Regions from separate parts of the Homo sapiens genome. Here region 2 is linked to region 1. Evidence: fine-mapped expression QTL. A gene starts in region 1. The other region holds a variant in brackets. All regions are shown on one strand. Distances are from middle to middle.

Region 1 (11,316 bases):
TCAGGCTATCCACCTGCGAATGAATCCTCAGCACTGTGTGCCTGGAAAATCTCAACACCTCCCTCACCTTCCCAAGTCACCAAGAAGATGCATCATTACTATCCCAGGCCCTTTCCATCAACACTGCCTCATCTCACTCTCCTGATGTCTTTCACTGGGACAACTGAGGCAGCATCGTAACATGCCCCCTTGCTTCTAAGTCTAGAATTCCTCAAATCTCTTCTCCATAGTGCTTCTAGAGTCTGATTTAAAAGTCTCAACCTGAGACCACTCTTGCTTTTGCCCAAGGCCTGTGGCTGTAACCTATTTCCATAGCTAATGCAAGAACTTACCAGTAAGAACACAAGGCTCTAAAATGTAGAGGCTAAATGATCGGAGTCCTTCCATTCTCATCAACTACTGTCACTCTTCTCTCCAAGAGAACAAAGCTAGATAGCCCAGGACCCAAAAAACACCACACACTTTTACACTCCTCTGCTTTTAGTGAGGTCAGGTTTCATAATGGTAGATTTTCAGTTAGACACACATTAAATGATCCAGCTCCACCATTTACTAAATGTGTGACCCAGGGCAACTTATTTCATCTCTGTTAACCTCAGTGCCCTTGTCTGCAAAAAGAAGGTAACAAAGTTACCTCATTAGGGCTTTTAGGGGGATTAAATAAGGTAATATGTGTAAAGTGCTTAGTAGTCAGTCAATGAGAGCATTATTATTGTCCTTTCCAGATATTTCTTGTAATCTCCTTTCTCATACCTAGGTGATTCACCCTTTTACTTATTTCTCTTTATTGCAATTGTTTTAACATCAGATGTACTCATCTGGCTGTGAGCAATTCCAGGGCTGGGTCCCCTCTTATGTTTCCAAGTCCTCATTAACATAAACCCAGGCATATAGTAAGCCCTCAATAAATATCTTTGGGATGGAAGAACACATGCCAATAGATCCTCCTTGTTAACTCTTGCCTCTCTTGGAGTTGTTCCTGAGAACTACATTGTGTACCTTCATAAGGAAACATGAAGTCAAGGCCCAGGGAATTAAGAAACGTCCCTGGTGACCTAAGTCACAAGACGTTAGGCTTGCAGTGGATCCGCACAGACTTGGAGGCCAAGGACCTCCAAGCATAAAGTACCTGTAGCAGACACATCAATCAAACCATGTATAAAACACTTGCAACAAACACATCAACCAAACACCTAAAAGCAACACATGCAATCTTAAAAGCTTTCCAGATGTTAGAGATTCATTTGAGAAGCTCTAGCAAAAGAAGACTTTGAATCTCAAACATTGCAGGACTCTAAAATCACAATCAAGCTCAAAAGCACAATTAACTGACTTATAAAAAATGGGGCAGAGAGCAGGGTGGGGGTGCTGAGGGACTAGAAATGCCAGAACATTTCCAGAATACGTATGTCAAGACTACATCATAAACTTAAGGATACTAAAAACCTCTCCCTCCAGCTCAGCCTCTTGAAGTCTGAGATCATGGCTTATTCCGATATGCCAATGTATAGCACAGTGTGTGTCACATTTAAAAATACATACTGAGGCCGGGCACAGGGGCTCAATCCTGTAATCCCAGCACTTTGGGAGGCTGAGGCAGGTGGATCATTTGAGGTCAGGAGTTCATAACCAACCTGGCCAACATGGTGAAACCCCATCTCTACTAAAAATACAAAAATTAGCCAGGCATGGTGGCGGGTGCCTGTAATCCCAGCTACTTGGGTGGCTAAGGCAAGAGAATCGCTTGAACCCCGGAGGCGGAGGTTGCAGTGAGCCGAGATGGAGCCACTGCACTCCAGCCTGGGCAACAGAGTGAGACTCCGTCTCAAAAAAACAAAACAAAACAAAACAAAAAATAAAAACATAATACAATTGTTAAAATAGCTACAATTTATGGGTTCGAATTGAGAGACCTGCAAAGGCTTCTTTGATCATCAAGTACTTTGGTATTAAATATTATATAAAAACAATAGTCTAACCAGTTTGGTAGTTTTCATTTCTTCCAATAAGAAAATGGCAAACAGCAGATATTCCACTGTGATAATAGTCTTGGGCGTTTAAAAACTTTTCTGAAGTCATCTTAGAAATGCTGTATAGTATTATGGTAATAGAATTGAGTCCAAAAAGACTGGAATTTTAGCTCCTCCTCAAACATTCTGACAGTCTGTGTGGCCCTGTCAGAAAGAAAAATGTCTACTTTTTCTTCTTCAAAATACTGCCATTTTTTAAAATGTGTATTTCAATTTGAATTATTTTATAAAGGTAAAACTGATAACTGGAGTGTTTTACATAGTAAAACAGTTACAAAAGTTATACATATTTTAATATTTTTGAATTTAAAAATACTTCTATTAATAACTACCAATTAACATTAATAGAAAAATAATAGGAAGTAAGACAGTGATTGGGCACACTTCTCTCTCTCACACAAACAGAAATAACTAAAGTGTAAAACAACTTATACATGGAGATATAAAACAAAAGGGCAATGGTCTAGATAAATTCCAAAGTTTATAATCTTTATAATCATATATTTAACCTGCCTACTATATCACCTGTAAGAGAAAATGTGGGCAAGCTCCTATGACAAGATCATTTTTATCTCCTTAATGCCCTCCCGCCCCCCATTCATTCTAGAAGTTCTTCCTAGGTGTAATTACTCTGGAAATAATAACTAAAAATTTATAAAAATCTGACAGACATATGGGAATATGGATCTACAAAGGTTCTTGCATTTATAATGAGGCTAGTACAATTTCCTAGAATTAGCAGTCTCCATCAGTATATTAAAACTAGATGCAGGAGGATGTAGGCTTTCACTCTGGCCTTGATATGAACTGGCTGGGGAATCTTGATGAAACCAGTTACCTTGTCTGAGTCTGTTTCCTCATCTATAAATTGAAAGAATAGAACCAGATAAACTCTGTGGTCCTTGTAACCTTTCCTGTACTATGAAATCTGCTATGTTATAGAAATAAAATCAAAACTAAACCACCATCGAAACCCAAATTCACACCTTCAAAGTCAAGCATCTAATAATTAACAGCATACCGAAGTTTACACACACGTTAAAAACAAGTAAATCTGGCATATGCCACAGCAAAATACAGGCCTCCATTATGAGGAGTACTGAGAAGCACATTCGCATCCTTCCTTTTCTGGTGCACCACAGGCTCTCCCTCCAGTGGAGACTTGTCGTTTCATCTACTTTCATTACATGTATTTCAATTGCAAAGAGGCTCTGATCAAGCAAAGCCCATCCTTACAAAATTGGAATCCACATGCAAACCAAATAGTTCTTTTTCCAGCTCACACCATGTCATGTGATTACATCAACACATAGCAAAAAACTGGGTATTATATTTTCCAAATTGTCAGATGATCCCAAACAAAAAAATCCAAACCCCTAAAATCAATGGCAGTCCCTTAAATATCACTGTGACAAGAACACTTAACAGTAATATACAGAATCATCCATCCTACTATACCATCCACAGTCCAACACAGGTTAGTTAACCTCTGTGCAATGAATTCCCAGCCCCTGGGACCAGATGTGTCAGGATAGAGAGACAGACAGAGGGAGGGGGAAGATAGTAACAGCAACAAAACATTTTCCTACGAAACTTGCACACATCTCTCCAAGTCTAACAGGTGCAACTACAGTCTAGACATCCCCTCACAGTTCTCTGACAAACAAGTTTCCCCATAACATATGTCCCCAGAGCTACTCCCCTGTAGACCGGAGATGGCCTTTTCTTCAAGAACTCAACTTTCACTTAGCAAATAAAACCAATCCCTAGCAAGCCTCCCTCACACAGAACCATCTTAGGCTGTTCCTGTGGAAAATCCAATTGGGAAAAAAAGACCTCCAAACCATCACCTCCTCCAAGTGCAGACCTCCTCCAGGCTGGCCATCACCATCCAAGGGTGATCCCTGGGAGCTGAGAAAAGGTACATGCTTTAGTCGAATCCAGCTTGCCAGTCTCCGCAGCCACCAGCAACCAGTCCCACGCTGGCCTCTCCCCTCCCAGAGACCACAGCACCTGTTAGGTGCTTTTTCTTTCCCACCTCCAAAGCAACGCTTGCCCTTTCCTTTTGAATAATGTCCAACTGCAGAATCCTACAGGGGTGGCTTGTTTTGACTGCTGCGGCGGCCCTTATTTTTGTTAATGTTGATTACAATTTCTGCTGTGCTCAAACCTGTAGCACTCATAAAACATGCTTACACACGCGGGGGACAATTGGCGATGCTCCCTGCTGGCTGGAGCCAGGCCTGGGAGGCTCTTTGGGGGATCGATTTTCCGGGCAGGCCGGTCTGGCTGTCCCCTAACACGTATCTGTTTCTATAAATACCCACTACCCACGGGGAGGTGGGGGAAGGACAGAGATGTTTACCGGGTCAGGGAAGGGAACTCTGGGATGCAAGGACGAAAAATGAGGAAAGAAGGAAAGCAGCAAGGAGGAAGTTCCTAGGAAGAGGAGGTCATGGGTGGGCGAGCTCTGGAGGGGAAGTAAGGGGCCCACGCCACGAATCTTCCTTTGTGGCTGCAGCTTTGGGCTCGCCCAACTTAACCAGGGCGGCGTCGACGAGAGACCATCGGCCCGAGGCGTGGGGCTGCTTGTATCTCGACCCCTCTTCTCCCGGCGTCAGACCCCTCCAAGTCCGGGTGCTTCGGCCTGGGGCCCCTCCCGCCCCCACCGCCCGGGCCGCCCGCGGGCTGGGTCTCACCGTGTGGGCTGCGGCGGCAGCGTTGCTGGCCCGGAGAGGCGGCAGGGCGATGGGGGAGGGCGGGCCAGTCCCCACTCCGCTCCGGGTGGCCCCTGCACCGAGCCCCGGGGAAGCCTGAAGCTGACGAACGGCGCTGTCCCCACCTCGGCCTGGAAGCCACGTGCGGGAGGAGACAAAAGAGGGTCAGGGGGGAGAAAGTCACCCAGACCCCCCCTCCAACCCCGCTGGGCAGCGACAACCCTCTTCCAAAGAAAGACGGAGGAAGAGACCGGGGCAGTAAAAACGGGCGTTCGGGTCACGGCTCCCCAGCGCACACCCACGGGCGGGGCGCGGGCAGCTGCAAAGTTAAGTGGGGCCCTGGCGCGCGAGTTCGCGACCCGGCGGGGGAGCCGGGCCGCGCCGGGGCTAGGCGGCCCACGTTGCAGACGGCCAGCAGCCGGGAGGTGGGTTTGGACAGCTGAGCAGGGAGCCACGGCCACGCCAAGCCCCGGGCAGCGCAGGGCGGGGCGGCAGGCCTGGACGGTCCCCGCCCGGGCCCCCGGCAGGCAGAAGCCTCTTCGGGCCGAGGGCTCCCCGCGGAGGGGCCTTCGGGGCCGCGCACAACCCTGCATGGAGCCCGGGGCGCGTCGTCCGCCCGGGGGCTCCCCCGCGCCGCGCCGCCGACTTTGTTCGAGGTCCCGCAGGCAGCGGCCGCCCGCGCCACAGGGGCTGCCCAGGGCCGGCGGGGGTCCGGGGATGCGGCGCGGCGGCACGGCCTCCTTACCGGTCGGGTAGGCGGCGGGAGCGGCGGCCGAAGGTTTCCTGGTTAACATGGCCGCTGGAGAGGAAAATGCATTTCAGGGCTGCCGTCGCCGCCGCCGGTCCTGCTGCTACTTCTGGCGGCCGCCGCCGCCGCCTCCCGGCCGCCCCTCGCGCGGGTCCCCGGCGCCTCGTCGCCGCCTCGCGTCTGCTACAGCCAGACACACACAGTCCACTGCATCCCCTCGGCCGGGGCCCGCCGCCGCGAGCCCCCCGCTCTCCTCCTCGCCGCCGTCCTCCTCTTCCTCGGGCGGCTGCAGCACCCTCCGGCCCGTGCACATGCCTCGCCCTCCCCTGCGCGCCGCGGGCCTCCCCGTCTCCCTCACATAGGGGCGCGGGGAGCTGGAAGCGCTGCGAGGACCGAAGACCGCCTGGCTCGGGAGCCTCTCCCGGGCCCGCGCGCGCGCGCCCCCGCGCACTCACACACAGGCGCCGGCGCGCGGCCCCGCCCCCGCCGCCCTCCGCCGCCCTCCTCCGCCGCCGCAGGCCCCGCCCCCGGCTCCCCCGGCCGCGGCCACGCACACCCCACCCCCACCCAACCTCCCGCCCGGCTCCTCTCAGTCCCCCGGTTTGCGCGCAGCCGCCCCTCCGCTCCCCGGAAAACTCGGCGGCCTCCGCTCGCCCTCCTCCGCCCCCTCCGGCCATCTGCACTGCTTCCCTCGGCTCCACTCCGGCGACCTTTTCCCCTCCCCGGCCCCGCGGCGCCCCTTCTCTGCCCTACAGCTCAACCTACCGCTGCTGCCCTCCGGCCGAAAGCGCCGCAGAGACCCCTCCCCTGCCATGCGCACCCCTAAACATAAATGCATTTTCAGCTCTTCGAACTGAATGGCTGCTCACAGACAGTACTGCTTCCCCGTCCCCCCATTCTTGGTCCCAGCGACTTAGCCACTCCCCTCTCCCCAATTCATCATGTAGATAACTTAGTTGTGCGAGGGTCACCTCGGAGAGGCAAGTCCCGGGAGGGGCGGCCGCTGAGCTCGTTGACCCTGAGCAGGGGCGAAAGAGGGGGCTGCCCTCCCACCTCCACCACACACCCTCCCCGGTTTACTGACACCAAGTGACCGCTCGCCAGTCGCTAGGACAAGGGGAGGCAGAGAGGCGCGTGTGGACGGCAGCTGGGGAAGCAGTTGGCTGTGGGTTGCTAGGCAAAAATAAACATCAGAGACATCTCCTATTTCCTTACAACTCCGAGCCTTTCCCCTGCGCGGCCACTGGGAGAGACACACCTTCCTTTCAGCTCTGCGGTGAGGGAGCGACACCTCGAATTCCTCTCACCCCACCCGACACATCTCTTTCCCCCTTCCCTTCCAAGACACGTGGAGAATTTCCCTGCCTTTTTTATTCGCCATATACAACCTCTCTTTTCCTTGAAGACCAAAAAAAAATTGCTTTCCCGTCTCACATCCGCGCCTCGTCGTGCGTGGCACACAGTGCGCCTCTGTTCAAAGGTCACAGGTTTTGCCACTTCAACTGTGAGAGGAGGTGGGGTGGGAAAGCCCGACAAATCCCGGATGACGGGGCAGAGTTATGCCATGCACTTCCTTCTCGAGAGGTGCCTAGTTTCTGAAGTTCTCTTGGGGCCAGGGGTCCATTATGCTCTGCCCCGCCCGAGTATCTCTGGCTCCTGGCTGGACCTACTGTGCAGGCCCGAACTAGTGCAGACTCCAGTCGGAAGGGAGCCACCTCCTGCGGAGTTTCATCCACTCTACTGTTTGCAAATTGTCATAGCAACCTCCTACAGAGCGCATCCGCAGCTTTATACAAACGCCAAAAACTGTTTCAAGGTACAGTGTGACCCTCTCAGAGTCTCTGGGACTCCTAAAGAGGCCTCCAAGTTAGGGTCACTGGGAGAGGGAACCTGTGACAAAAAGAATTTTCCCTAGTATTACGTCCCTCCAAACAAAACAAAACAAAACAAAACAAAACAAAACACCCTTTCGGGGCCTTCTCCTAATAAAGTAGACCCACAGTAAAATAATCCAATAATATGCCTTTAGAGGAATCATGACCTGAACTGACCCTAGCAAGAAATATCCCCCTATGCTTGTCACTGGCGACCATCACATTTAAATCCACATGCGGAAGCATATTTAGTGTTTAGAATCGACTAAAAGAAAAGGGCTACTAAGTAGCAGAGATGACACTAGAACCGGTTTTCTGACTCCCAGTCTGATTTCACTATGACTTCCATCACACTACTTTCCTTACACTTTCAAGAAAGCTCACACCTCTTTTTTCTCCTTTCAAAACAATTATTTTCATACCATTTTCCTTTTTAAAATGAGTACTCCATACAACTGATGTTCAAATAAAAAAATGAAACAAAAAAATCAATTTTAATATAATATGACACCCCTTTTTGCTTAAGTTATTCGTACAATACTTCAGTAGAAGCTAAATATGCCACTGTTTTCTCATGAATAAAATAAATGCTAGTTACTGGAAGCCATAGTTTACGATTTCCAAATTAGTAATATTAATTTACTCATTTAACATGAGGAAAAGGAGCACTGATTCTTTTTTTTTTTTTTTTTTGACAAAGGATCACAATCATTAACTTTAAGAAAGAAAAAGACAATAGGGAACTTTTTGTAGTATATTGTTTTATATCATGACAAATATAATTTCAATTTTGTATATTTTTTGTGGCTTAACATAAGGAAATATTGCAGTTGACCTACCCCATAGCTATTTTGATTATAAATGGTACATCTTTGAAAATTATATTAATTTTTACTGACCTCTAAGTGACTATTAACCATTGCTTAGATTTTCCTCATTCTGTTAAATATTCTATTAAATATTGACATCTCCCTGAGTGAATGTTAAATAGAAAAGCTGTACAAACACACTCCTGGGGCTTTGGGGAGAGTGAAGTGGGTAAATTTGGGGAGTTATTTCCCTCAAATTTTATTATCATAATGCATCATTATCAATTATCTCATATAATTACACATATTTTGATCTCTTTATAAAACACTTTCACAAATATTACCATGTTTAATCTTCATAACTCCACCAGAGCAGATTTCATTTTAAATAGGAACCTCCTTAAAAGCTTCATTCAGTTAGCAAGAGACTGCTCTTTGGTTTTCACCCATTGTAAAAACTCTGTGTGTTCTATATGTTTAAAATCCAGATTCAGATAACAAGGAGGTAGGCAGGATCTAGCAGGAGTAGAGAGAAACAGGAGAACTCAGAATAGAGCCTTGAGGAAGAAAGTTGATTTTTCACTGGGCAAAGTACTGATCACAAGGAAAATTGGAAATGAACATAAAAATTGCTGGTTTCAAAACACATTTACTCATTTAATCCCCTTATCCCAGAAACATTTACAAAGAATTTAGTATGTGCTAGGCCTAGGAGACATGATGAATCATCAAATGCAGTAGACTACACTTCAGTCTGGCAATCTATTAGGAACTCATTCTTGTTTTGTTTTGTTTTTGTTTTTTTGAGACAGAATTTCACTGTGTTGCCCAGGCTGGAGTGCAGTGGCACAATCTCAGCTCACTGCAACCTCTGCCTCATGGTTCAAGTGGTTCTCCTGCCTTAGCCTCCCGAGTAGCTGGGACTACAGGTGCCCACCAACACGCCTAGCTAATTTTTGTATTTTTTGTAGAGACGGGGTTTCACCACGTTGGCCAGGCTGGTCTCCAACTCCTGACCTCAAGTGATCCACCTGCCTCGGCCTCCCAAAGTGCTAGGATTACAGGCGTGAGTCACCACACCTGTCCAGGAACTCATTCTTTTATTCAATTAAGCAATAAGCTATAAGAACCTAACATATTTTTGGCACCGTTGGTGGAATGTTATGGTCTGAATGTTTGTGTACGCCCCAAATTTATATTTTGAAATCCTAACCCACAATGTGATGGTATTAGGAGGTGGTTAGATCAAGTGACTGCAGAGAGTTAGTAGCCTTTTCCACCATGTGGGGACACAGAGAGCAGGCACCATTTATGAACAAGGAAACAGGCCCTCACCAGACACTAAATCTGCCAGCACCACGCTCTTGAACTTTCCAGCCTCCAGAACTGTGAGAAACAAATTTCTGTTTGTTACAGTTACCCAGGTTATAGTATTTTGTTATAGTAGCCCTAACAAACTAAGACATGGGGCTACACAGTTAAATAATCCCTGGCTCTGGTCACTGCTACTAGGAAGTTCACAGTTCCGTACGGGAGACCAGACATTTAATGAAGTGAAAAGAGTGGTAAAGAAGGCATATAGGAGTCACAGAGATAGCACACAGGAGAGAGGGACGAGCTCCACTTAAGTGGTGTCTGGCAGGGGCTGTGCTTCAGTGGAGGTTTTAAAGACGCGTGGGAATTTGCAAGTTAGGCGAGACAGGTTAGGACATTCCAAGTGGAAGAAATAGGATGTTCAGAAGCGTCAAGTTGTAAGAAAGCATGATGTGTCCCAGGGGAAGGGGAAGCAATTCAGAATAGAGGAAACTTGGGGTGCCAGGCAGAGGGGTGGTACTGCTATCTTCCTAGGGTTAGGTTTATGGATAGATCAAGTCAGGTTAAGAATTATCCTAAACTTGGCCAGGCATGATGGCTCATGCCTATAATCCCAGTGCTTTGAGAAGCTGAGGAGGGAGGACCAGGAGTTTGAGACTAGCCTGGACAACATAGCAAGACCCTGTCTCCACAAAAAAAGTAAAAATAAAGAAATATTCTAAACTTTATCTGCTATGGATATGTGAAAACAAGGTGCAGGGGCTTTTGGAGCAGCTAGATAAATTATTAAGGAACTGACTCATTTTGGTGAAGGTGGATCTAACTCCCTTTAAGAGAACACCAGGCCAGGTGCAGTGGCTCATGCCTGTAATCCCAGCACTTTGGGAGGCCGAGGCGGGTGGATCACTTGAGGTCAAGAGTTTGAGACCAGCCTGGCCAACATAGTGAAACCCTGTTGCTACTAAAAATTCAAAAAAATTAGCCAGGCATGGTGGCGGGCACCTGTAATCCCAGCTACTGGGAGGCTGAGGCAGGAGTATTGCTTGAACCCAGGAGGTGGAGGCTGCAGTGAGCCAAGATTGTGCCACTGCACTCCAGCCTGGGAGACAGAGTAAGACTCCATCTAAAAAAAAAAAAAAAAAAAAAAAAGAGAACACCACTAACTGGCGGTACCTTCTATGTCTCCATCACCAAGGTCCAGAACTACCTAGAAAAGAATATGAAGACCTTATGGCCTAAAGTCTACTAATGTAAACTTTTCAGAAGTAGGAGGCATGGCCGTCATAACCAAATGGCTACAAGGTATCTGAATTTGCCTCTGGAGTGTGGCTCTGTGGCCACTACTGGTGTGGAAATCAAGAGGAGATTTCTATACCGCTAGAAAGTTGGTGATATGAGGTGTTTGGGCAGGTTGGTTATATGTCGGTCAGGGCACTTGCAGAGCCAGTTTCCTCCATTCTAGGTTGGGGGGTACATTTGCCTCCTAAGGCAATCTAGGTATTTGGAAAGGCTGCAGAGTTAATTCAGCAATTTCTTGGGAACAATACATCTGACTTTTCTTCCAACTGCATCCTAAGGACAGAGTTAATGTTTAAAACCAGTAAGCAGGGAAAAGAGAAAGCTACATCCTGGAGATTGGAGTACTTTAATAAAAAGCTCATAGACAAAGCCCAGTGGGACCTCTGCTGAAACCTCTTCCTTTGATCCAGCAGGACAAATGTCAGAGGAGTGGTGTCCAGTATATCCAGGAGCTTCAAAGGGACAGGAGCGCCATGACTAGGTAGGGTCCCAGCAGCTGGCTTCCAGACCAGTCTTCTCAGGCTA
Region 2 (11,316 bases), 130 kb after region 1:
GGCATGTGAGGACTCAGTTAGAGGATTCCCAGCAGAGAAAACCACAAAAGCAAAGAGATACAGCCATGAAGCCAAAATAGCCCACTTGATCTCAGAAAATAAACCATCCAATTTAATGTGGGGAAGGCATATGAGTCAGACAGGCAAAGCCAAATTAAGCCATTCAGGAATCAGGCAAGGAACATATATCCAGGCGGGACCTCTTCACACTTGATGCCACAATGCAACGATACGTTTTAAATTCCAATGGAATTAATCTGCAAATTTTAATGGCAGGATTCAGGAGTAGGCCCCTTCTTTCACCGACTTACCCGTCTCCTCATTAATATTTCATATAATCTTCTTCATACTGTCTTGGAAGCAAGCAAGACAACAGACAGGGAATATTTCCCCCTATATGAAATGTTTTTGCTACATTATTTTGTCATACCAGGTGTCAACCACCTGGTCTACTGCCAAATCCACTGTACTATCTTAAAGGGTCCATCCTCATCAGGTTATTTTCATAAGCAAATAAATACATCATAAATGACAAATGCTAGGTTTTCTCTAAAGGAAAAAAAAAATCATTTATCTCTAGCCCTGGTCCCAGTCAGTATTTTGCCCACTTATTTTGTCTTATTTTGCCCACTTAGACCTGCTGCTTCAAGTCCTTTCTGCCATTGCTGAAGAAATGACATGAATTCAGACAAAGGAATTACCTGGTCCAATTGTGTCTATCTGAGACAGTCCTCAAATGCTAAGTTAACAGCCATCTAGGATCACACAGCTAAGGAAGGCTTCCCGCCGCTGCCTCCCCTGCCTTTCCTGCTGAGCCTGATGGATGAGCTTTTGTCTTTCTGGCATCCCAAGCCCTTCGCTTTGTTTCACTTTTGACAGCTATGCACCTTGCGGAGAAGCCAGCCAGGTTTGGAAACCAGTTTGGTCCTGACAGACCTGCACAGCGGGAACTCACCTATATATGCAGTGATCTGGGGCAGTGCCTGCCTGGGCACTAGAAAGTCAGACCAGGTTCCCAGAGAGCCCTAAAGGCAACCAGTCTAAACAGATACATCAATCTGCTCACTAAAGAATAAAGCTGGCTCTCCCAATATAATTACAGGCTGGCTGATTTATTATTCCAATCTTTAGTGCGTGGCAAGGTTAGTGTTATTTGTGCCAGTTTATGGTATTGGGCCAAAACATGAAATATCAAGTTAATATGATTGGTTCCAAGAATGGATTTGCACAGAGACAGCTCCTGCTTATGCCAATGTGTGTGCAGGGATTACACCACGTGACAAAGCCCTTTTGAGAAGAAAATGACAATTCTTCATATATTCAGAATGATTTAATAGCTGGCAAGCTACTGCCAATCACCTGGGCTACTGCCAGATCTACTGAAATATCTTAAAGGGTCCATCCTCATTAGGTTATTTTCATAAGCAAATAAATACACCATAAATGACAAACGCTAGGCTTTCTCTAAAGGGAAAAAACCAATCATTTATCTCTAACTCTGGTCTCAGTCAGTATAAACATGCTAAACCCCACATGGGAGAAGAACACTTTGTAAGAAGTTGTGGAAGGCCACGTGAGATCATGGTCCAAGGACACTGGCTTTGGAATGGCAGAGACCAGGATTCGAATCACAGCTCCTTCACCTGACAGCTCCATGTTCTTCATCACATTTCATAACCTCTACAAACCTCGGCTACCTCATCTGAGAAATGGGAATGATATGTTGTTACAGGGGGTAAGTGGCTCCAGCTCAGTTACCTGGTATAAGTGAGGCATTCAATAAATCAGTGTTTCTCAAAATGACAGGAGTGTGATGATAAGTCTTCTAGGTTTGGAAGTTCTCTGTGGAACATTATTACATTTCTGTTTACCTTTCAATCAATTTAAAAATTAATATAGCCATATTACGGATCAGCTGAAAGATCTATTTGGATTCAGTTTGGGAACTCAATTCATAATCTGTGTTTATGATTACAATTGGTACCAGATGGTACTACTTGAAGTGTCATGAGCTAGAGAAAATAGAAGGAAATCAGAGTTGATATAAAGGAAGTGTTTATGCCAAGTGAAAGCCCAGGATGCCTTCAGGTTGTGCACATAAATGTCCTAAGAGTTTAGAACAGAGAAAAGTGGTATAGGAACTGAGTGAGCTCACAGCACTGGTCCTACTGGCACCAAGAAGGCAACATATCTGCACCATAGCAATGAGCAACAGTTAAATTCACTAAACAATGCTTGTCACATTTCATCAATATATAATTGTGAATTTTATTGGTTTTGTTGCTTTTTTTTTTTTTTTTTTTTTTTGAGAAGGAGTCTCGCTGTTGCCAGGCTGGACTGCAGTGGCACGATCTCGGCTCACTGCAATCTTCACCTCCTGGGTTCAAGCGATTCTCCTGCCTCAGCCTCCCGAGTAGCTGGGTCTACAGGCACACACCACCACGCCCAGCTAATTTTTGTATTTTTAGCAGAGACGGGGTTTCACCATGTTGGCCAGGATCATCTTGATCTCTTGACCTCGTGATCCACCCACCTCAGCCTCCCTGTTGTCTTATTTTTAACATATAAAATTGTTTTGATGTTGTGGTTTGCAAGTAATAAAGCATTTGTTTTTAGGCCTTATAAAAAAGGAGAGACAGATGTAGATATATAACATATAGATGTACATCTTTATGTTATAAAGTACTTGTTTTAGGTCCTGTATATTTAAGTAAAGATAAAAACAATTTTTACCGGTAGATGTTCATGCAAATTTTTTTCTATAGAATGAGTTCATAGATTATTCAATTTTCAGAAACCCAGCAATAACTGGTCACTGTTAGTGTAATTATTATGAAGGAAAGGATATTCCTTAAGGAATAAATGGTCATATTATTTTGAGTGTAAAAGCAGGCTATAATATTTGCATATACATTATATACACTGTTGAAAAATTATGTCCAGAAAAAATGACAACAATATAAAGGAATATACTGAATAATAGTTGTTACACATGGGTGATAAAACTGAGTGGTTTTTTTTTGCTATTTTAACTTGGCTTTAACAGACACAAATTTTATAATTCTAAAACACATGTCTAGGGTGTAAGGAGAGTGAGAGTGTAACTTGCAACTGAACCAAGCCGATTCCAGACTCGCAACTGCTGGGCTGGGGAAGCCCTGACATCCTAGCACTCACATCTCCGCGGCCTCAGTCCCTGGTTTCAAAAGGCTCCTACCCTGAACACTTCAGATCCCAAAATACTCCCCTGGTACCTCCAACAGATGTGATTTATAAGGCAAGTTTCTGTCTTAAAACACTTTTCCGGGAACCCTGATTCTTGTTGGTACTGGGGAGTTCCAGGAACGCTCTGTGCGGCCGTGAAGGTGGTCACCTCTGTGGTCTTCCCCCTTGGCAGTTCTCCACGGCCACCCTTGGCAAACGGTGCAATGGGGCTCTGTTGGTTTTCTTGTCTCTCTAGCACAGCACCTTTTTTGGCCGCCTCTTCCTTTTTTCTGGCATTCTTCCCCAAGCCTTAGTCATGGCACCACGCCCGAGCCAGACCTTCTGTGGCTGGGCTTCCGATGTTGTCTGCCACCCCTCAATACTTTCCTTGGATGACGTGATGGGAAACACCTACCTGTGCCAGCTGCACTCTTTAAGTGACTAAGGCTAATCTGGTTGCACAAGACATATTACACACGTACACACACACATACATATTATACATTACATACACACACAGGCACACACATTTTAGTACTCAGCCTACCCTAAACCATATAAATCTGTATCTTTGGAGGTGAGCCCTGGCACTGGCATTTTTAAAAGTTCCCCAGGTGATTCTAATGTACAGCCAAGGCTGCGAACTGTCAGGTCAATCGCAGCATCCTGGAGGCCTGAGAACGCACACTCTGAAACCAACGACCTGGAATTAAATCCTGGCTCTACCACAAACCTGCTAGCTGCATAACCTTGGGCAGTTTAATTCACCCTGTTCCCTCTGTTTCCTTATTTGTAAAGTAGAGAGGATGCTGATAACAATATCTACCCATAGTGTTGATGTGAGGATTAGATAAGACAATACATACTTAGAAGAGCCTAGCGCGGTGGGGCACAGTGGCTCACGCCTGTAATCCCAGCACTTTGGGAGGCCAAGGCAGGCAGATTGCTTGAGGTCAGGAGTTCGAGACCAGCCTGACCAACATGGTGAAACCCCACCTCTACTAAAAATACAAAAATTAGCCAGGTATGGTGGAATGTGCCTGTAATCCCAGTTACTCGGGAGGCTGAGGCAGGGGAATTGCTTGAACTCTGGAGGTGGAGGTTGTAGTGAGCCGAGATCGCACCACTGCACTCCAGTCTGGGTGACAGAGTGAGACTCTGTCTCAAAAATAAAAAAAATAAAGAATAGCCTAGCACAGAGCTCCATACAGACTGCTTCCTCTCTCTTATTGGTAATTATTTTTACTCAGCATCGTATAGTCACCTGGTTCAGGAAGAACACCAGGGTGGCAGCTTCAGGAATATAGAACAGGAGATTTCCTCTCAGGGCAGACTTTGTAAAGGTCTTGTTTCCCCCGAAACAAGATCCTATGAAAGATGTCCTGTCCTAAATGTGACCGTTGCTGCTCCCCAGTCCCTAGCAGGTGCTGCAGCTGAGGACACCCGGGGAGTGTCTGCTGCATCATCATCAGTGTGTGCATTTCAGCAACACTTGCCTGGATCTCATCTAAGAGATCCCAGAAGCTTTAACATGTGACTCTGACAGAAGCTTTGAATGTAATTACCAAAATCCATTTCTGCAGCTTGCTCACAGGTGGGCCTGGTTGTTGCAGGCCCACAGCAGCTGTTTGAAGCCTTTGGCACCCTCTCCCTGTCTCCGAGGGGGCTGTGGGACCCAGGCGGTTTGCTCATACCTGGACCGGCTTTTTCCTTCCCTCCAGTTTACTGACCCTTGCTGTAGAATAAACGCCCTCCCTCGCTCAATGTGCTGCACACCTGTTAGTGTTTGTTTTTCACTGACAGTGTTGATTTCGCATTGGACCCAGCAGAGGATGTGGTTACAGGGCCATGATAAGGGCTCAGAGCTGCTCTGTGGACAAGAGGAAAATGCCAAGTTGGGTAA[T/C]GAAAACTGAACCGCCCTGTGCTCTGACTTAAAAATATCTTTACCAAAATTATGAAAGCACCACAAAAGCAAAACAGAAAATAAACTCTCTCTCTCTCACCCACACTCAACCATCCCAGAAAGTAGTGTGGCATGTTGGAATGGGTACTAAACTCAGGGGCAAGAGTCCTATTGATACTTTCAGCTCTTTCAATGCCTCAGTTTCCTCCTATGTTCTGTGAATACTTCCAGCTCTCTCTGCACCATGAAGGGAAGGGTTTGAATGCACTGAACTTTATGGTCCCTTCTGGTACTCCACCCCCTTGCCCATCACACAGGCCAATGTGCCATCTCCCCGATGCACAATGCGTTCAATTACTGAGCACAAACCATGCAGCAGGCATCGTGGGAATTTCTGGGAGAGAAGGGAGATCAAGCAGACACGGTCCCTGGAAGCAAGTGTGTAAACAAAGAAGCACAACCAAGGGATTCATAAACACATGCTGGCAGAATGTATGTATAGGGGTGGCTGCTTTGCACAAATCAGGATCAGGAATTTTTTATAAAGAAGGTGATTCTTAAGTTGAGCGTCACGTAATGAATAAGTACTTGCCGAGGCAGGGTGGGGTGGAAAGGGCGGTGTTAAAGGCAAAAGGAAGGTTCAACAAAGGCTGAGTTGCAACACAGCTTGGTGGGCTGGAGAATTGCAGGACTCTCTGAAGAGTCAGGAGCCTAGATTGTGAGGTAGGTGTGGTGTGTGTGTGTGTGTGTGTGTGTGTGTGTGTGAAGAGAGAGGGGGAGAGAGAGGAGAGGAGGAGGAAGAAATAAAGAAAAAGAGAGAGAAATGCTGCTGGATACCAGAAGAGATGAGAAATAGCAGGAACCAGATAAAAAATGTATGATAAAAAGTGAGTTTAGAGTTTAGCCTACAAACGTAGTGAATCTAATGACAGTTTTAAGCAGTTTTAAGAATGACGCTATCATATTTAGGGCCCATGGAAACTTCATGCAAAATAGTTATATATGGGAATGATTAAGAGATTAGACTAGGTTCTCATCTCATTTGTCACTTTTTTTTTACACTGTTAGATAACAGATGTACAAGCAGTGGTATCCTATTTCCTTGCTTATTTCTTAAGCGACAGTACTTGAAGCTTCAGGACACAAGTTTACAAGTTGTTGGCTTTACTCTTCAGGCTTCTTTTTTATGCCTTTTCCATTTAGACAATGCAAATTAAGAAACTTCCAAAAAGCTTTCCAAGATTAATTCCATTGTATTCTTACCACTCCATTATCCTCCTTTCTCCAACTGTTAGGGATTTTTCTTCTGCCTTTTTTTTTTTCTTGCCTTGATTTTTATCTCACACATAGCTATAAAATTATCATGGAGATTTTATAACTCTATAATTTCAGGATAGTAAAGGCCACTAATATCTAAATGACTTAAAATAATATTCCCACACACTTAGCACACGCCTGGCATAGAGCAGATGCACAATTAGAAGAAAGCACATAGGCCGTAGGGTCAGAACATACAGGGGTTTCACCCTGGCCAGGTCATTTCATCATTAATGGTTCCCAGCAAGTCATCTTACTCTGAGCCTCAATATCTTCATCTGTAAAATGGAGCTAATAATATTGTTAAAGTATACATATAAATGCAAAATCCTGATCCTCCTACAGATATAAAATGAGCACATGCTAAAGATATTGTTTAACAGGCAAATGTTAAATTTGGTTCAAAGAAGAAGTAAAAAGAAACACAAATTTATATAAAGGAATGTTGAAATGAGTTTACAAATAGGCAGAAACTGGCTTTTTCTGTTGGGAGGGTTAAGGGGTGGAGAATTAAATTTAGTTCCATTTGGATACTATATATTTATGTATCTTACAGACAAGAATCACTTTCATGTAGGTTATCTATAACCATCAAAGGTAATGAAAGGCACCAAGTCCCCCATAGAATCAGAATGAGATAAACGGGAAAGGTGAGTGCTAAACAACTCATGGTTTTTCATGGAAGCCAAGCTGTTCTCTACCATGCCTAGCTGGCATCCTAGGTTGCTGGAAGGATTTAAGCTCACATATGTGCAGCACCTTCATAGTCTGTATAATGTACCAGTTGCCCAGCAAGTAATAACTGGCTTTGTTACTATTAATAGAAGCTATGAATGAAAATTACTTATTGGGTAAGGTTTTACTCATCCAACCAGAACGTGTATTCTTTTATTGCTATCATCTAATAGTGTGCAGTAGACTGTCCAGCACTGCTTGATACTTAGCATTAAATGACAAATTTATATTAAGGAAAATATTCTGATGAAATGTGAGATGGCTTTTTAAAACAATTAATGATTAACCTTCTGAGTTAGAAGAGATGGCAAGGGCAACTAAATGGCTGCTGCCATCACACTCTCTTTCTGAAAATCAGTGGGCCTTGGGTCCTATTACTGGAAAATGATGGTGGTTGAACACAATGCTGCTGCTTCCCCTTCCCATGAGAGACCAGTGTGAGTTCAGCTTAAAATGAGCATTTGCTTTACTCTGCTTCTAAGTCCTTATTCAAACTCAACTCTCACTGTTACCAATCAGATTTGCCCACTCTGCCTTCTATGACATCCCAGCAGCATTTTCTTCAAGGAACCAAGATCAGTTTATGATGTCACCATTGTTGCCAACAGTTTGATTCTGGATGCAGACTAAGACAAAGAAACTTAAGTTTTTGAACTCACCTCACTTCAAGTGATAAGGAAGCAAATACAGAAGGAGAACTTAGGAGAGTGAGCGAGTGTCTCTCTCTCGTGTGTGTGTGTGTATGTGTGTGTGTGTGTGTGTGTGGTGTGTGCCCATGATTAAATAGCAATATGCAAAACAGCTACCCAAAATTTAAAATGATGTTCCTCGCATAAGGCTGAAATAATTTTTCCGGTGGGAAAAGGCACATTGGGATGACATAGGAACAAAAAGTTGGGTATACATTGGAACTGCTTCCCGTTTTAGTGGTTTGGACACAAAAGTGTTTCTACTTGCCTGTTCTTTCCTTTTTTCTTTTTGAAAGCCTTTAATTTTAGAATTGTAACAAAAAAACCATCCAATTTTACTTAATAGTAGACTTGGCTTCTAATAACTTCAAAAGCTAGGGAAAGATAGAAAAAGTGCTTTTGATTTTCTAAGCTGGACCGAGTTTCTGGAGCCCCAACGTTCCCGTACCCTTTCGGGCATCCTACTTGGTACTTGAGAAAATGCTGACCTAGAGACAGACTTAACTTATTCCACCCTAACTCCCATAGTTGCTGTTAACTTTTCTGTGCACTGAAAGAGCTCTTTTGACTGGAGAGAAAAATGCTGTGAGAACAAGTATGGGTTGAGGTGGTGGCAAAGGAGTATCTTTGATCAGAAAGCAAACCTCAACTGTGGGTAAAGGCAGGACTAGCCTTTTCATTTAGGGGATTTCTACAATTATGTTATAAGTTCCTGAGAAACATCCATTCTGCCAAAAATAACTCTGCTTTGCCAGAGGATGCCAGAAATTCCACAATTTTTAGTTCAGTGACTCAAGCACCTGTTAATTTGCAAGGGTGCATGTATTCAATCCTTCCTCAAAGGCAGATATGATCATCTAACCTAGTGATTCTTAACCCTTCTGGATTATGGATGCCTTTGAGAACTTGAAGAATTCCATACCCCAGAAAAATGCACACATGCACTTTGTGAGTTGAACTTTTCTCCCATTGCAAACAACAGAAGCTAAGTTGTTTCTTAGCTTCTAATTTAAGCAAACTGGGGATTTAATGGAAGAAAATTGAGTGGGAGAGGAAATGGAGCTGCTTTGGGCACTAGATAGCAGGAACTAGTTCCTAGTGGGCACAATTTCTTTGTGTGCTGTCAGTGAAATGAATCTGACCAAGATATGTTTTCCTCTGGCTGTTAGACCATCAAGATTTCCCCAGAGGAACTCTGGCTCAGCTTAGACCCCCAGCCCCTCCATGGCTAAGGAGGTAAGGCTTGTTAGCTGATGTGCCACCAAGATAGAATAAGCTATGGAGAGGAGCCAGCCCTTAAAGGAGAAATCAGGGTCCTGGCATTACCAGGAGAGAAAGAAATGATGCCGGGCAGGCAAAAACAATAAATGCCCAATAAACACACTCGCTCACTCAGAATTCTTCATATTAGGTAAGTGGGGGAATCAGAAACCCCAGCTCTAAAAACTGGGGTCAAAAAGCCACAGATTAGCTACACCCTATGACCGATATTTAAATGCTCTATACAACATACCCTATTTCCTGAGAGTATGCTTGTTATTAGAAAATCCGGAGTTAAAGAGAAATTGGGGAACCTGATAGAAAAAAAATGAGGATGAAGATACCAAAAAGTGACAGGAAGCTAATAAAGAAGCTAGGGACAGTAAAACCATGGTTGGTTTTCCCATGCCTGACCCCAGATTAATGAATCTCTATGGAAAGATATATCTACTCTTATCCATGTCAGAGGCTCTGATACCAGTTATCTGCTGGACATGCATGGGGCTCACTGGCTTTCCAGTCCTAAAGAAGATGATTAAGAGAGACCTACTGTGTGTGGAATAATCCCCCAGATTGAGTGATGCTACAGAACCATGCCCCTGCGCTTGACTTCTGATTTCCCTGGTGTGAGTGCAGCACCTGAAGAAACCCATGATGGTGGGGGAGAAAGAGTCTCTTCCCCATCTCAGCAAGATGTCACATGGATCTAGATCTGAAGTGGCCTGGGAGGTATGCTCCAAGGACCAATGAACACACTGTGTTCAGTAACTGTGCTGTCAGTGAAATGAATCTGACCAAGTCATGTTTTCCTCTGGCTGTTACACCATCAAGATTTCCCCAGAGGAACTCTGTTTGGCTCAGCTTAGACCCCCAGCCCCTCCTTGGCTAAGGAGGTAAGGCTTGTTGGCTGACATGCTACCAAGATAGACTTCTGACTTCCCTGGTGTGAGTGCAGCACCCACAGACACCCATGATGGTGGGTTTCCTCTACTACTAATTGGAGCACATGGCTAGGGAGAGAAATGAGCTTTTATTGGATGACTTACCCATTTCAGACCTTTACAACTCCGTTCCTCAACAGGTGGTGCAGATACCTTGCGAGGCCCACTGTGATTTTCCCCTTGACTGCTTCTCCAGATGCATCTCAAGTGCCTCTCACTCTCACACACTCATATTCAGCCACATTGCCTCCTTTAAAACTCCTTGTCCTACTAGAAACCTCAGGGTTTTATCACATATTGTTTTCTTTGTCTGATGCGCCCTTCCCCAACTCTAGCTAACACCAACTTATTTTTCTTATTTATGGAAGGGTGGAGGCTCCATCTGTCTCATTTACTTTTGTGACCTGGGACTTTTGAGCCCAGGCCCATGTTAGGTAATCATTATATGTATGTTGAATGAATGTTGTTCAGCATTGTACAGAAGGAGAGGCGCTCTCAAGGATAAATAGTAGAAAATAAGTGAGTTAAGTTAGTAAATTTAGAGATTGATGAGAATGCTGATGTGTGTAGAGGTGGGAACAGATATAAAACATAAGACGCTGACAGAATTGTAGAATAGTCCATTCTTTCAACCTCAGGAATGAAGGCAAGAGAGCCAAGAAAGTACATGGAATACGGCCAAAGATAGTTAAGGTTTTAGATAAAGCTGAAAGCTCATGTATCACTTTTGGTTGCCTTGGCAACAGAACCTTCATCTCATGATAATGATATTATAATATGACGAAGCAAATACAAATAAATTAATACCTTATCAAAAATGGAGCCACAAATGGTCTAGTTAACTTCACCTTTGAGGATAATGTAAGGTGGAATCTTAGAAGGGGTTCTATGCTGCAAAAAATGCACCCTAGGATTTGAGTTATGTATAAAAGGGTTAAACCAGGTCATGGAATTTGACAAACCAAATCTAAAATGCATATGTGGAAACACATAAGGCCATGATCAACTATGATGGTTTTGAATAACAGAATAAGTTATGGGACTTGCCCTATATTTCAGTCATCTTTTAACATCATTATGCTGTGGAACAAACAACCACAAAGCCCCAGTAGCATAGCACAATAAGCATTTATTTTGGCTTATTTTTTCCTTTTCTTTTTTTTTTAGATGGAGTCTCACTCTGTTGCCAGGCTTGAGTACAGTGACGCGATCTCGGCTCATTGCTACCTCCACCTCCCGAGTTCAAGCGATTCTCCTGCCTCAGCCT

What was found. PIP is the estimated chance that this variant, and not a neighbour inherited with it, causes the effect.
Region 2: its variant is fine-mapped to the expression of DYRK2 in whole blood (INTERVAL, PIP above 0.99).

The regions. Positions count from the first base shown.
Region 1 is chr12:67,643,359-67,654,674 of GRCh38, reverse strand. DYRK2 (dual specificity tyrosine phosphorylation regulated kinase 2) reads right to left here and starts at 5,930. Exons shown (of 3, transcript NM_006482.3): 1 at 5,493-5,930; 2 at 4,730-4,878. The coding sequence starts at 5,541. RefSeq lists an enhancer at 3,408-3,457 and silencers at 4,538-4,927, 5,088-5,747, 5,758-6,057, 6,158-6,267.
Region 2 is chr12:67,509,578-67,520,893 of GRCh38, reverse strand. LINC02408 (long intergenic non-protein coding RNA 2408) reads right to left here and starts at 812. Exons shown (of 3, transcript NR_103861.1): 1 at 702-812. RefSeq lists an enhancer at 486-1,151. The variant T/C (reference allele first, on the strand shown) is at 5,108.